2 separate regions of the Homo sapiens genome follow, and region 1 is linked to region 2. Evidence: fine-mapped expression QTL. A gene starts in region 2. The other region holds a variant in brackets. All regions are shown on one strand. Distances are between the middles of the regions.

The links. PIP is the estimated chance that this variant, and not a neighbour inherited with it, causes the effect. A credible set is the group of variants that fine-mapping cannot tell apart.
Region 1: its variant is the best candidate, but not a certain one, in a credible set for the expression of SKA2 in prefrontal cortex (BrainSeq, PIP 0.83).

What each region holds. Positions count from the first base shown.
Region 1 is chr17:59,126,972-59,134,971 of GRCh38, forward strand. It overlaps SKA2 (spindle and kinetochore associated complex subunit 2), which reads right to left. Exons shown (of 4, transcript NM_182620.4): 2 at 4,310-4,396. It also overlaps the pseudogene RNU2-58P. Among named protein-coding and RNA genes, the nearest start is that of MIR454, 6.9 kb to the right of the region's middle. The variant T/C (reference allele first, on the strand shown) is at 4,420.
Region 2 is chr17:59,151,434-59,159,948 of GRCh38, forward strand. It overlaps SKA2 (spindle and kinetochore associated complex subunit 2), which reads right to left and starts at 3,753. Exons shown (of 4, transcript NM_182620.4): 1 at 3,698-3,753. The coding sequence starts at 3,730. It overlaps PRR11 (proline rich 11), which reads left to right and starts at 4,313. Exons shown (of 10, transcript NM_018304.4): 1 at 4,313-4,372. RefSeq lists enhancers at 3,541-3,780, 4,441-4,490, 6,799-7,998.

The DNA.
Region 1 (8,000 bases), 25 kb before region 2:
AATCTTGAGAACATTATAAGTGACATACATGAGTCACAAAAAGACAAATATTATATGATTCTACTTATATGAGTCCCTAGAGTAGTCAAATTGATAGAGACAGAAAGTAGAATGGTGGCTGCTAGGAGTGGAAGAAAGGAACGTGGAGTTATTGTTTAATGGATATACAGTTACAATGTGGGGAGATGAAAACCTTCTGGAGATTGATGATGGTGATATTGTACAATAATGTGAATGTAGTTAATGCCAGTGAACTGTTCACTTAAAAAAGATTAAGATGGCTATCAGGTATAAGGACACGTGCCTGTAATCCCAGCTGCTAAGGATATTGAGGCCAGAGGATAAACCTAGGAATTGGAGTTCAGCCTGGACCATATTAAAATGGTAAATGTTGTTATTTACATTTTACTACAATTTCTTTTCTTTTCTTTTCTTTTGAGACAGTCTTGATCTGTCGCCCAGGCTGGAGTTCAATGGCGCAATCTGGACTCACTGCAACCTTCACCTCCTGGGTTCAAGCAATTCTCCTATCTCAGCCTCCCAAGTAGCTGGGGTTACAGGCTCGTGCCACCACGCCCGGCTAATTTTGTATTTTTAGTAGAGACGGGTTTCATCATGTTAGCCAGGCTGGTCTTAAACTCCTGACATCAGATGATCAGCCTGCCTCAGTTTCCCAAAGTGCTGGGATTACAGGCATGAGCCACCACACCCAGCCCACAATTTTTTTTTTTAAACTGAGAATGTAAAATGCTTTAGATGCCTTGGAAAACAGTTTGGTAGTTCCTTAAAATATTAAACCTGAGTTATCATATGGCCAGCAATTCTACTCCAAGGTATATACTCGAGAGAAATGAAAACACATGTCCACACAACAACTTGTAAATGTATGTTCATAGCAGCCAAAAGGTGGAAACAACACAAATGACCACCATCAACTGATGACTGGATAAGAAAATGGAGTATGGGCCGGGCACGGTGGCTCACACCTGTAATCCCAGCACTTTGGGAGGCCGAGGTGGGTGGATCATGAGGTCAGGAGTTTGAGACCAGCCTGGCCAACATGGTGAAACCCTGTCTCTACTGAAAATACAAAAATCAGCTGGTGTGGTGGCACGCACCTGTACTCCTAGCTACTCAGGAGGCTGAGGCAGGAGAATCGCTTGAACCCAGGAGGCGGAGGTTGCAGTGAGCTGAGATTGCACCACTGCACTCCAGCCTAGGGGACAGAGCAAGACTCCATCTCAGAAAAAAAAAAAGAGAGAGAAAAGAAGATGGAGTATAGCCATACAGTGGAGTATTACTCAGCAGTAAAAGCAAATGAAGTACTGATTGACGCTACAACATGGATGAAACTTAGAAACATCCTAAGTGGGCCAGGTGCAGTGGCTCATGCCTGCAATCCCAGCACTTTGGGAGGCCGAGGAGGGTGGATCACCTGACGTCAGGAGTTCAAGACCAGCCTGGCCAACATGGCAAAACCCTGTCTCTACTAAAAAATACAAAAATTAGCCAGATGTGGTGGCACACACCAGTAGTCCCAGCTACTCAGGAAGTTGAGGCAGGAGAGTTGCTTGAACTCGGAAGGCGGAGGTTGCAGGGAGCAGAGATAGTGCCACTTCACTCCAGCCTGGGTGACAGAGCGAGACTCGGTCTCAAAAAAAAAAAAAAAAGAAACATCCTAAGTGAAAAAGTTAGACATGAAAGGTCATATATTATATGATTCTATTTATCTGAAATGTTCAGACAACAAATCTGTGGAGACAGAAAGTAGATTCGTCTTTGGGAGCTTGCAGGATAGCAGGGAAGGGTGGTAGGGAGTAGCTACTCATGGGTATGGGGTTTCTTTCTGAGGTGATGAAAATGTTATTGTGGCAATGGCTACAAAACCATGAATACTAAAAGCCACTTAATTATATACTTTAAAGGGGTGAATTTAATGGTATATGAATTATAGCTCAATAAAGCTGCTTTTTTAAAAAGTTGCAGGAAAAAAAATACCCACAGGTGGAACAAAGATGAGAGATGGAAGTCAGAGGAAAAATGGGAGCACTACACGTCAATGTCTTTCAAAACAGTACTTGAAAGATACTGACTAGGTCAGGCGTGGTGGCGCACGCCTATAATCCCAGCACTTTGGGAGGCCAAGGCAGGTAGATCGCTTGAGTCCAGGAGTTCAAAACCAACCTAGGCAACATGTTAAAATCCCATCTCCACTAAAAATACAAAAATTAGCTGGGTGTGGTGGTGTGTGCCTATAGTTCCAGGCACTTGGCGGACTGAGGTGGGAGGATTGCTTGAGCCCAGGAAGTCAAGGCTGAAGTGAGCTGAGATTTTGTTACCGCACTCCAGCCTGGGTGACAGAGTGAGACCCTATCTTAAACACACATACACACACACACACACACACACACACACACACACACACGGTCTTTAAACTGATAAAAACAGATACTACACTTGATCTTAGCCAAAAGGCTGAGAAGAAATATCACAGGAATCTTTAAGACAAAAGAAAGAAAGGAAGGAAGGGAAGGCAGGGGAAGGAAAGAGAAGGAATGAAGGAATGGAAGGGAAGTGAGGAAAGAAAGGAAGAAAAGGAAGGAAAGGGCCAGGTGTGGTGGCTCACGACTAATCCCAGCACTTTAGGAGGCTGAGGCGGGTGGATCACTTGAGGTCAGGAGTTTGAGACCAGCCTAACATGGTGAAACCCCATCTCTACTAAAAAATACAAAAATTAGCCGAGCATGGTAGCCTGCGCCTGTAATCCCAGCTACTCGGGAGGCTGAGGCGGGAGAATCCCTTGAACCTGGGAGGTGGAGGCTGCAGTGACCCAAGATCACACCCCTGAACTCCAGCCTGGATAACAGAAGGAAGGGAAAGGAAGGGAAGGGAGGAAAGGGAGGGAGAAGAAGGATGGGAGGAAGGAAAAGAGGGAGGGAGGGAGGGAGGGAAGGAAGGAAGGAAGGAGAGAAAGAGGGAAGGAGGGAAGGAAGGAAGGGAGGAAGGGAGGGTAAGGGGAAGGGAAGGAAGAGAGAAAAAGAGAGGGAGGGAGGAAGAGAGAAAGAGGCGGGGGGGAGAGAGAGAAAGAAAAAAGGGAAGAAAAAAGAGAAAGGAAAGAAAGAAAAGAATAGGGAGCTAGAACAGTACAAACTACACTCCCATAGAATTCTAGCATTCCATGAAATAAACAGTAAAAACTGAACATTCGTGAAATTTTCCCAATTTTCTATAAAATGTTAGTTTAACTTATACTTCTACCCAATCCAAAAAAAAATTTTTTTAATTGTATGGAATTTTTTTTTAACTGTAAAATGCACTGTTTCTTGTCTGCTGGTAAGTGCTATCAAAGACAAATATTGGTCGCACGTGGTGGCTCATGCCTGTAATCCCAACACCTTGAGAGGCTGAGGTAGGCAGATCACTTGAGGTCAGGAGCTCAAGACCAGCCTGGCCAACATAGTGAAACTCCGTCTCTACTAAAAATACAAAAAAAAAAAAAAAAAAAAAAATTAGCTGGGCATTGTGGCGCACGCCTGTAATCCCAGCTACTTGGGAGACTGAGGCAAGAGAATCGCTTGAACCCAGGAAGTGGAGGTTATGGTGAGCTGAGATTGCACCACTGCACTCCAGCCTGGACGACAGAGTGATCCGTCTCAAAAAAAAAAAAAGATAAATATTAATTAAGCCTGATACCTGGGCTTTGGGGAAAAAAAGATAAACATTATTGAATTAGTGATTTTAGTGTTAATGTTAACAGACGATGCTTGGAGATTATTTACTTTCACCCCCATGAACATGTATGTATACTTACACTTAATGATTTTATGACATAAAGCAGAGTTAATGTTTCTAATCAACCTAAACTTAGAGTAATTAAATAGATAGCTTTATCTAGAAATCACTATTCATAAAATATAAGTAAAAAATCTAATAGTGTATCATTACCTTCCTCAGAGAATATGCTGACTGCCAGGACTTCTCCCCTCAAACTTACTGAAGAACAACTGCCCTAGAGGTAGCTATATTCTCTCTTGGAATTTCAGAGGCTGCCACAGTGGCTTGTACCTCTGAACTCAATGATTATTTTTTAAAGGTTAGGGGAAAAAAAGTAGCCACAAATTTCACGGACTATTGGTACTATTTCTCCAGTGTGCTATAACCAAACTTCCAACACAATGCAAGATTTTAAGATTCTATAAACTTAATAATATAATTCTTATGATCTATTACTATTAGGAATGCTATCAGAAAATTCTAAAGTATTCAGTTAAGGCTGATTTTTTTTAAGCTTATTTATTTCGGAGATTACCTCACTTGCTGAATCAGGATGATTAGTCTTGATTTCATATTCCAGCCTGTATTGAATGTAATCCAGATCAGACTCAGCTTTCTGGAACTAAAGATCAGCACAAATCATTA[T/C]TGTGTAAACCAAAAGACTAATAGTAAACATGATACTTTATTCTTTTTTTCTCTTTACATTTGTTAGTATTTCAATAAGTGATACATACTCATTTGAAAATGTGGAAATAAAAAGTATATAAAATATCCATTATCCATAATAACTATGCTCTATGAAAAATTTAAAAAGTAGTTAACATTTTAAAGTCATTCATTTCTCTATGCCTCTCTCTTACATTTTGAGCCAAAATCAAGATACTGAGTAGCCATTGTCAGATATTAATACAAAAAACTAATAATGACGTCAATAATTTCCTAGGGTCACAGATACTCTCATCAGTTAGGCAGTGTTTTTCTACCTCTGGCAGAAAATACACTTTCAATTTAAAACACAGAACAAATTTATTTCAGGAATACTCATATTGTTACCTTTATTTGCAATCCCATTGATCAAAGAGCTACAACTATGTGCCACTAAAATTAAGAGGGCTTAAAGAGTCACAAATTTCACAAGAAAAGCTACATATGATATGGGAGTAACAGTCTGAATAACCCCAATTTACTGAACCTGGGTGCCAGCATGGGAACTTGATCTGTAGTAAACCTCAAAGGAAGAAAAAAGGGGAGAACTACCACCCTGAGGCCATTATGGATATAGGATGCCTGAATTAAAGTGAAAAGTTACATTTAAAAATATCAGTATTGGCCGGGCACAGTGGTTCACACCTGTAATCCCAGCACTTTGGGAGGCCAAGGCAGGTGGATCACCTGAGGTCAGGAGTTTGAGACCAGCCTGGCTAACATGGTGAAACCTCATCTCTACCAAAAATACAAAAATTAGCTGTGCATGGTGGCAGAAGCCTGTAATCCCACTTACTCGGGAGGCTGAGGCAGGAGAATCGCTTGAACCCCGGAGGTGGAGGCTGCAGTAAGCCAAGATTGCACCATTGCACTCCAGCCTGGGCGACAAGAATGAAACTCCGTCTCCACAAAAAAAAAAATAAGTATTTGGGGCCAGGCACAGTGGCTCATCCCTGTAATCCCAGCACTTTGGGAGGCTGAGGCGGGCGGGTCACTTCAGCCCGGGAATTCAAGGCTAGCCTGGCCAACATGGCAAAACCCCATCTCTACTAAAAATACTAAAATTAGCTGGGGATAGTGGCATGTGCCTGTGGTCCCAGCTATTTGGGTAGCTGAGGCACTAGAATCAGTTGAACCGAGGAAGCGGAAGTTGCAGTGAGCCAAGATTGGCCACTGCACTCCTGCCTGGGTAACAGAGCAAGACTCTATCTCATAAATAAGTAAATAAGTAAATATCAATATTTGGAATACCATGCCATTATTGAAAACGATGATATACAAAAAAATACTTAAGGGGGGGCTTTCACATTTTACTCTATTTCTGTAGTATTTGTAATGAGCAGCTATTTAACCTTTCAAAAGGTCATTTGTTTTTAAAATGATAATGTATAGACAGATTTGACATGACACTATATTTATGACTCATTAAATACAAAAACAGCCTTGAGTATGTTATGGCCTCTTTTTGTAAAAGAGATGTATACATATACAAAGTTGAGATGGATATATGACAGTGTTAAAAAGAATTTTCTTTTTCTTTTTTATGAGACAGGGTCTTGCTCTATAGCCCAGGCTGAAGTGTTGTGGCACCATCATAGCTCACTGCAGTGTCAAACTCCTGGGCTCGTGGGATCCTCCTACCTCCTTCCGAGTGCACCTGGGACTACAGGCACATGCCATGGCACCCAGCTAATTTTTGATTTTTTACAGAGACAGGATCTCATTATGTTGCCCATGCTGGGCTGAAGCAGTCCTCCCACCTCAGCCTCCCGAAGTGCTGGAATTACAGACGTGAGCCACCATGTCCAGCCTAAAAGTGGTTTATTTCTGCAAGCGGTATAATCAATGAATTATTCTTAACTTCATGAAATTCCGCATCTTTTACAGGACCTTAAAGCATATATTGCCTCGAGTTTATCAGGGATATAACTGTCCTTAGAGTTTACTACAGAAAGGAAAACATGATTTCCACAGGCATGGTCTCCTATTCCTATCCCAAAACATAGGAGGCTGTTTGCAGGGAGGGTGCTGCTCTTATTATGAACTTTATCACTGAACTAAAGATTGATTCTCAAAATCCTGAAGCCTTAGTGGAAGGGGAAAAACTGTTAAAAGCAGTTCTCAGGTCTAATAAGAAATGATGTACAGTTATTTTTAGTATATAAAAGGTTCTATTAGGACCCTACTTTCAAATGTAGAGTAAGACAAAATGGCTGTCAGAAATTCAAATGCTTCTAAGGTCAGAAGCTGTCATCAAACAGAATTTCAGAAATAAACTAGTTTCCATCACTAATAATTTCTCTTATCATTGACCTAAATTGGAATGGAAAACTCTGCAATGACCAAAATTCTATCTTTATAGCCAAAACTTGGGGGGAGGGTACAGATAAAAGAAAGAGAAGGTTTTTGTTTTTAAACATATTTTCCAGGTCAATATCTTATTTCCATCTCTAACATCAGGGAGTTGCTCTAAGCCAGAAAAATTAATGTTGGGTACATAATTACAAAGTGTGTTTAAAATGATTTCCAAAAAGTGGAAGCTTTTCATTTATCCTCTATACTTGTCAGATGAGATGCCACGATTAAATTAATCAATAATTACAACTCCTTAAAAATACTAATGTTTGTGTCTGTGTGTGTATTAAGAAATTCCTATTTGCATAATTTCTCATACTAAGATATACTTAGGGATTATCTTTTCCTATAAATAAGAAAAGTACACTAACCCATAAAACATGTGGATGGAGAGAATGAGGAGAGACCAGGAGCCAGAGCAAATCAAAGTTAACAAAGGCTGTGAGCACTCAAGACCTGATTTTGTTTGTCTTAATTACTGAACAGACCACAATTCCATAGCTTTTTTCAATGAGTTATATAACATTCTTAAGCACAACTTTAAATACAAGTCTTTAAAGCTTGTTTTAGTCATTTAATTTACCATAAATTATGGAATTTGTGGCTCCAGAGATTCCTAAGACAGAATCTCTATTCTAGAAACCCTTAACATGTTTATGAAACGAAGTATTAAACTTACATATTTTTTAACTTGATATTTAGTTCTGCTTGAAGTTTAGCATAATCTCATGTAGTTCCTTGAATGGTAACTTTCCTTTTTTTTTTTGGAGGAGTCTTGTTCTGTTGCCCAGGCTAGAGTGCAGTGGCACAGTCTTGGCTCACTGCAACCTCTGCCTCCGGGGTTCAAGCAATTCTCCTGCCTCAGCCTCCTGAGAGCTGGGACTACAGGCCTAAATTGTCCTAAATTTGGCAACTGAGACCTCCAAGGTTTGAAAGATTTTTACAATAATCTAACGTATATGTCACAAAACATGATGAGTTTGGGGGACACAAAACTCCCAAATGTAGACTATATTCATATATATATTTTTGTCATTTATTTTTTTTGAGACAGGGTCTCACTCTGTCATACAAGCAGGAGTGCAGTGGCAACAACTCGGCTCACTACAGCCCCAACCTCCCAGGCTCAACAGATCCTCCCACTTCAGCCTCCCAAGTAGCTGGGA
Region 2 (8,515 bases):
GCATAGATGTAGAAAGGAATTTTGTAAATATGCCCTAAGCCTTAATAGTAATTAGAATGGGTATTGTTAATACTTTAGGATTGGTATTAACAAAACCAGTTATAATTACTACTAAGGCAAAGTTGTGAAAAATATTTTTGTTCTCTGCAGAGATGTTGGTTAGCTCCTTCTTCAAGGCAATTTACTGATTAAACGCCATGTAAAACAAGCCCTTTGAATAAAAGTATCAAAGAAAACAAATGAAAAGTAAAATAATAAGTTTCTCAATCTCTACATACTCAATCTATCACTCTGGAATCTAAACCACTAAACAAAGAAAACACAAAAGCACTTACCATCTTACAGCTTTTTATCTTGAGTTTACTAAGGGCTGTCATAACAACAGAAGGGAATCAATGTGCTCTAAACAGAACATTAACCCTATCTAACTGAATACTATCCAAGGGGATTTTAAAATTTCAGTTAACTCCTGAAATCTTAAATAGAGGCAGAAAGCATCTCCATTTCCTTCAAACTTAGAAATGTCAAAGAGAAAATAATGATGGGGGGAGGTGGGACTGAGATTTAAGTAACAAGTTTCCTTAGTTCCAAGCTAATTGACATTTTAACTTTTTTAACGGATAAGAACCCAATCAGAAGTCAGATGTAAACCCAGAAACAGAAATAGTATCATAGTATCACACTGCATTACCTTTTGTGTACAGTCACTAGTAGTACCACGAAAGAACAAAGCTAAACAAATACCACCCCATCATTAAGTGAAGGGGAAAAAGTCAGAGAACAAAGATTGCCCTACAATAAGCTTATTCCCCCATTAGTAATGTTGATTGATGCAAAAATATATTTTCATTATTTTCACCAACCTCCCTTTAAACGGTCCAATTCAACTACTTAGTCGGATTGAGCCTACTAAGGAAATGGGCTCATACAAAGGACAGCTGAAATATAAGTGTCTTGGTGTCAAATCCTGGGCCACATAACTAAAATATTAGAATATTTAACGCTGGTAGCCAAGTTTCAGGTTTTAAAGACAACTGTTTAAAAGATAAGTGTTTAACTTTCTGAATTGGAAGTTATTACAAACAAGAAAAATATTTAAAAAATTTAAGGTATTAACAAAATTAGGATAAACACTTTCTTTTCAAATTAAATATTATGCATTTCCTTTTACCTTGACAAATCCTTTATTTAACTGATGTAAAACCAAAAATCAGAAGATAGCACAGGAATCATTTACTCTTAAAATCTTATAAAATAAACTGGTCCACAAGTATAACATTTTTTTCTAGAAGCACATGGTAAATCTGAAGATGAGATGCACTGTCTTTTATTATCTAGTCAACACAAAGCAGTAATAATTAGAGCCATGATAAAAATTCATTTCTAAACCCTAATAATTATGGAAACAAACTAATAACCTGAAAGGAAAAAAAAAAAAGCTACCACTAATTTACTTGCAAGGATGTAAGAAAGGAAAAAAACCTCATTTCTTTTTTTCCTGTCTTCAAAAAGAATTTAAATACTACCCCATCATTCAAACAATACCTAAAAGTTTAAATGTCTGGCTACCTTATAATTTTCTAAAACCTACTTTTTCAAAATGTTTACTTCATCATTGTTCACTTAAAAGAGAATTTGTTCAATCTAAAGAAGTCCTGTGAGAATACTGACTCTACTGTAAAAGCCAGACGAAGTTTAAAAATTAGAAACAGCCAATTTGAGAAGCAAACAACCTGTTAAAAGCAGAATTAGCATCATTTAGCAGAAATGAATTATGAATTTAAGCAGAAATATCTATATCAGTAGGGAGGAATTCAGAATGGGAGAAGGGCAAGATAGTCTTAACATTTAAGCCTGTTGACAGAATCAAATTACAATGCTTAACATTTTGTTTTTTTTAAATGATAATAAAACTTAAAACTAAAAGTTCATTATTACAGGTTTGAAAATCTGCAGGAAATTCTTCCTTCTTCCCTCCCATTTCTCCCTACACTTCTCCAACCCCACACACACTGCACAAAGAAAATTTAAACACAAAATGCTAAAAGTAATTGAAAGCCTTCAAATTAAATTTGTATATGAGAGGCACTCCAATTCATTAGCACAACAGAAGAAAATAAGATATATCAAGGCCTCACTTTTTCTGGGGTGGGAATGGGGGGTGGGTGAGGTTTCTTCCAGGATCACCACCCATCCTTTCCAAGGAAGAAGTTAGAGACCCAAGATTCAGCTTGAAGAAAGCAGGGCAGGCACAAAGGATACCTAAGCAGTAATGCCAGGGAATGGCGTGGGAAGGAGGGACGGATTACAAACGAAGAAAGAAGTCTTTTACTTTTTTAAAACTTAATCTTTTTTTTTTTTGAGACGTTGTCTCTGTCGCAAGGCCGGAGTACAGTGACGCGATCTCGGCTCACTGCAACCTCCGTCTCCCAGGTTGAAGCGATCCTCCTGCCTCAGCCTCCCGAGTAGCTGGGACTACAGGCGCGTGCCATCACACCCGGCTAATTTTTTTATTTTTAGTATAGACGGAGTTTCACCATGTTGGCCAGGGTAGTCTCAATGTCTTGACCTCTTGATCCGCCCGCCTCGGCCTCCCAAAGTGCCGGGATTACAGGCGTGAGCCACCGCGCCCGGCCAATCGTATTTAACAGACAAGCAAACAAACAAAAAAAGACAGGAGCTCAGTGGCAGGCGCTTCCTCCAAAGTCCAGGTTTTTAAGGAAAGCAGCCCAACCTGGGAAAAAAAAAAAAAAAGAAAAGAAAAGAAAAAAAAGATAATGCTGAACGAAAAGGGCTGAAGACAGAACAAGGACACTAAGAGGAAAAAAGCGCGGGCGATCAAGCTGGTAATCTAAGGATGGGAGGGAGGGAATAAAGAGAACAAGTGAGGGACGGATCCTTAAAGAAAACTAGGACAGCCCCCCAGCTGGGCGCCCCCCGAGCAGGCCAAACACGCCAGCAACAACGGGAGTGCTTTCCAATTCTTCGCCCCCGTTTTCTACTTTCACAGATGAATGAAAGTGCACAACTCCAGAGCAGGATGCCTTTCCTGTCTCAATCCCGCCCGCGCTCCGGGAGCGGAGCTCGTGGTTACGATCCCCTTCGCTCACACCTCTTCCCTCACCCACGGTTTGCCACCTCCGGATCAAACAGAAACGGGTTCCTTGGCCGTTAGGAAGTTGTGCATACAAGTCTAGCATCCTTTCTCAGACTTTCTCGGCCCGCCTTTTAGAACGTGAGCGGGTTGGCCCTACAGGGATTTCTCCTCGCCCCCGTCAGTTTATTCCCCACCCCACCCTCCGTTCCCCTTTCTTGGAGTGTGAACCACCTCTCCCTTCTTGGGACGCTTAGGGACCGTTCCATTCACATCTTTTTTGGTACAAACACAGAATGCGGTCTGCACCCGGCGCAGTTTCGTAAGGGGTGTAAAGGTGAGGGCAAGGAACAAGGAATTCCAAAGGCCCCGCACCCTCAGCATCTCCCGCCATTTCCCTGACGAGTTTCCCGGATGTAACCCCTTACCCGAGGCGGTTTAGACACCAGACGGTGGCGGCTCCCTTTGGTGCAGGAGGAGGGAACTCGACTCTGGTCCAGCCTCCGCCGCCCGGAGTTTCCGGCGACTCCAAATTGTGCCCCACCTCCGAGGCCATGGGGGAAAAATAAACTACCCAGTAGATCTCCTTCACTTTGCACTCACCATCAGTTCCAGCTTATCGACCTCCGCCTCCATGTTGAATAGTTGACATTCCGCAGACCGCGGCGGCGCTTAAGCCGCAAGCCGTACTAGCACGGAGGGCCTCCATTGGACAGCTGTCACTCAACATCTCGCACTCATTGGCTCCTCCGTTCCACCGGCTCCCGCCCATTGGAGACTGGGTAACGCCCCTCTGCATGAGACACATTTTCCTGTTGGGCAAAGGCACAAAACGCCGCAGGAGGATTGGCTGCTGTGCAAATTTTTTTTTCCATTGGCTGCCCCCTCCTCTCTACTTTCAATTTTGTAGTTAGGGCTCTGCAGAGAAGAGCTTGAGATTGGTGCAATTGGAAGAAGAGCCAACCAATCACACCAGAGCTTCCACCGACAGCAGAGGGGACGTAACACACCTTCTTTCCCCTCCGGCTTTCCTTCCCCTTCTCTCCCGCCTTCTCCTTATTCATACCAGAAGCGCCTCAGCTCTGATTGGCTGGAGCTCTGTGCTATCTCAGCCAATCACAAGCCGGGCTGTGCTCCTACACCATCCGAAGAGCGAATCGTGCAGAGACCGTGTCTACGATTGGCCTCTCCCTGACAAGGATTTAATTTTGAATTTTTCTTTATGGCGTGGGAGAGGCCACAGCCCGGACTCCATCGACTCCCCCGGCTCTTAGACTAGTAAGTGCAGGAACGATTATTTCTTTGTTATCTGAGCTCGCGTCTTGAGTAGCTGGGCCTGTTGCTGCTTGTGTTTTTATGGTTTAGGGAGGTGGGGACTTTGGCTGGACACGAAGGGGAAATGGAAAGGAGGAAGGGGAGGTTTGGGGCTGGGGAAGAAGTGCTCGGCCTGGCTTCATCTTAACCATACTTCTATTTAATTAACACTTCGCAAGATACGTTTTGGAGCAAAGCATCTGCCTTCCTTTTGAACATTTCTTTACATATTTGCTGCTCAATGCAAGTCCACAGATCAGCGGCATCCGCATCTCTTGTTTGCTTGTTACAAATGCAAATTATCGGACTCCACCCAAATTTACTAAATCAGAATATACATTTTAACAAGATTTCCCTGAGTGATTTCTATGCACATTAAAGTTTAAGTTGGTACATTTCTTGACTGGGAATATTACTATGTTACTCGATATTGTCTGGCATGCTGTTAGAGTGTCAATTTTAAATGCGTGTCCTGTTTACTGAGTGCCTAATACTGTGCGGGATGAGACTTTAGGGAGCTGCAGTCTCTTTGGAAAAACAAGACAGAACAAAAACAGCAATGCTTAAAAAAAAAAAAGCATAAAACATAAAATTTAAAAAAAGCAAGTACCCAGAAATAGTGCTATGGGTGTTCAAGAAGAATCAATTGGACTGCTAATGGAAATTAAGTAATTGAAGGCTATTTGTGGAGGAGCGCAAGAGACTTCCATAAAAATGTGTTTTAGGAAGATGGCAATGAAATGCAACAGTCATTTCCGTTGCTGCTACAGCTTTGAAAGTACCCCAGAACAAAGAACTTTTCTTCTCTTTCTTTCTTTTTTTTTTTTTTCTTTTTTTGTGACGGAGTCTCGCTCTGTCGCCTAGGCTGGAGTACAGTGGCACAATCTCGGCCCACTACAACCTCAGCCTCCTGAGTAGCTGGGAGTACAGGCGCACGCCAGCACGCCCGGCTAATTTTTGTATTTTTAGTAGAGACGGGGTTTCACCCTCTTGGCCAGGATGGTCTCGATTTCCTGACCTCGTGATCCACCAGCCTCAGCCTCCCAAAGTGCTGGGATTACAGGCGTGAGCCACCACGCTCGGCCGCAAAGAACTTTTCATATCATTGGGTGGAGTTTTCACAGAAGCAGCAGCGCCAACTCCTGCAAAAGACTGTAATTCTTACTGTATTATTTATTGCATCTTCCTATTGGAAAATAGCTTTAGACCCATCTTTTAGCCATATGAAGATGTGGTATGATATGAAGAAGTAAAAACCTCCCTAACCAAGAGAATTTGACAATATTAGAATATATTCCTTAACTAAAATAACACTTGCTAGCTAACACTTAGCAGGAATGCTTCTTTTCATTCTTTATTGAATGAAACATTATTTAGCTCCTGCTGTATTCTAGATGCTGGGAAAACAAAGATGAATGAAATTTGTCACACCCTTGAAAAGCTCACAGTCCAGCAGGATGACAAACATACAAGCAAAAATTACAATGAAATGTAATACATTTTATAATAAAGATGTGTATAAAGTGCTATAGAAGTGCAAAAGAGATGACATTTCAGCCAGTATAAATTCTGTAAGGAGGCTGGGCATGGTGCCTCACACCTGTAATCCCAGCACTCTGGGAGGATGAAGCGGGCGGATCACTTGAGGTAAGGAGTTCAAGACCAGCCTGGCCAACATGGCAAAATCCCATCTCTACTAAAAATACAAAAATTATCCGGGTGTGGTGGCACGCCCCTATAATCCCAGGTGCTCAAGAGGCTGAAGCAGGATAATCGCTTGAACCCAGGAGGTGGAGGTGGCATTGAGCTGAGATCACACCACTGCACTCCAGCCCGGGTGACAGAGCGAGACTCTGTCCACCCCCCCAAAAAAAAAAAAATTCTAGAAGGACAAAGACTATGTTGGTGTTGTTCAGGATTGTATGCCAGCACCTAGCATAGTACTTGGTGGATTATAAGCACTCAACTAATATCTATAAGATAAAATAACAGAATCTTGAAGGCTAGGTATAAGTTGACTTGGAAGAGGATACTCTAAACAGAAGGAAAGGCTGATAGAAAGAAACAGAAAGTATTTGGTGTTTAGTATACCTGGAAGTACAAACCGCTAGTCACTAGAAGAGACTATGGCAAAGGGCCATTAGAGCTAAGTTGTGAAAAGTTTTGAAAGGCATGCTAAGGAATTTAATTTTGTGAGTAAAGGAACCTTCAAATACTTTTAAGCAAGGGAATATCTAGATCTCATTTTGTTTTAAAGTATCAGTTCTGGTATGGAAAATGAACTGGCAAGGAGAAAGACTGAAGGCAGGAGAATCATTGAAGGAACACTCAGCAAACCCAAACTAAGAAACATTCTCCAAAACGACTGACTTGGACTCTTCAAAATTATAAATATGAAGAAGCAAATACATAAATAAAAAAGCTGGAGAATTGTTATGAATTAAAGGGTACTAAAGAGACACTACTGCTAAATGCATGTGGAACCAGGGTGGGAGAAGCTATAAGGGATATTGAGACAATTGGGGCAATCCGAATATGGGCTGTTTATTAGATCATTTCATAACAAGGTTAAATTTCCTGACTGATTGTGGTTTTGTTGGAAAATTTCCATGTTTATGTTAGAAAACAAAAGCTAAAGTATCTAAGAGTAAAGTATCATGATGTCTGCAACTAAATCTATTCAATCCAAAACTAAAAAAATTTATGTATGTATATATTTGTACATACGTACAGAAAGAGTGTGTGTACAAAGACGGCAATTGACAATTGGTAAATCTAGGTGAACTGTATATGAGTGCTTATTATACTATTGTAAATTTTTTATTTCCTGGAGCCTTGAAATTTTTCTAAGTAAAAACAGTAAAGGAAAATAGACAATAGTGAAAGACAAAAATGAAAAAAGTGAAGGCAACTGAAGTTAGAGGACAGAACGGAGGGGGATGGTAAGGAGAAGAGACAGGGTAAATTAATCAGAGAAATATTTCTGATTCATACTCACATTGGCCCACACCCAGGTGTGGTGTGCACCCAGTGCAGTGGCGTGATCTTGGCTCACTGCAACCTCCACCTCCTAGATTCAAGTGATTCTAATGCCTCAGCCTCCCGCGTAGCTGGGATTACAGCACACTCCACCACACCTGGCTAATTTTTCTATTTTCAGTAGAGACAGGGTTTCACCCTGTTGGTCAGGCTGGTCTCGAACTCCTGACCTCAGGTGATCCACCCACCTCAGTCTCCCAAAGTGCTGGGATTACAGGTGTGAGCCACCGCACCCAGCCTCCCACACCCTCTTTTTTTATAACCCTCTACTCCAATAGGAGCTCCATTGTCTCTGCATTCTTTTCACCTTCCTGGCCATGCCTTTTCTAGTTCTTTCTCTACCCACTCCTTATACATGGTGTTTCTCAAAGTTTGGTAATCAGCTCATAGATCTTTTCACTCCACATATTTCTCTGGGTAATTTCACTCATTTCTAGTGTTGTTATTTTCTCAAGCTACCTATACACTTATGAGTGCAGTATTTCTCTAGTGTCTTTCCCCTGAACTTCTGACTTTGAACATAGAACATAAGCAGTTAGATGTATTTAGATACCCTACTGTCGCTCCTATAATCAGGTCCTCATCCCCTAGACAGTTGCAGTAGGTTTGTAAGTGGTCTCTTTGTCTTCAGTCATGGTCCCATAAATCCAATTTCCACGATGCTGCCAAACCATTCTTTCTAAAGAAGAAATACGAGCATGACAATTATCTGCTTAAAATCCATTATTGTTTCTGATGTCTTGGTCCTTATCCACCCTCCAGCTTCATCACTCATTGCCCCCTGACAAAACTTTACGTTGCAGGATATGCTTTAGTCACACTGAGTCTTGTCTGAATCCCCTGACATACCTTTCTCTGAAATGTTTCCATGTTATTCCCTCTGATGGGATGAGTCCTCCCTAGGCCCACCTTAACCTAGCCCCTTCATCAAAGCTCAGCTTAGGCAAAACCTTTTCCAAAAACCTCAACCCTTATGGGAGAATTATGTACCCTTGCTTTATTTCTCCATTAATATCATATACATATCCCATCATAACCCATACACTATTGTATACCTGTTTACTTTCT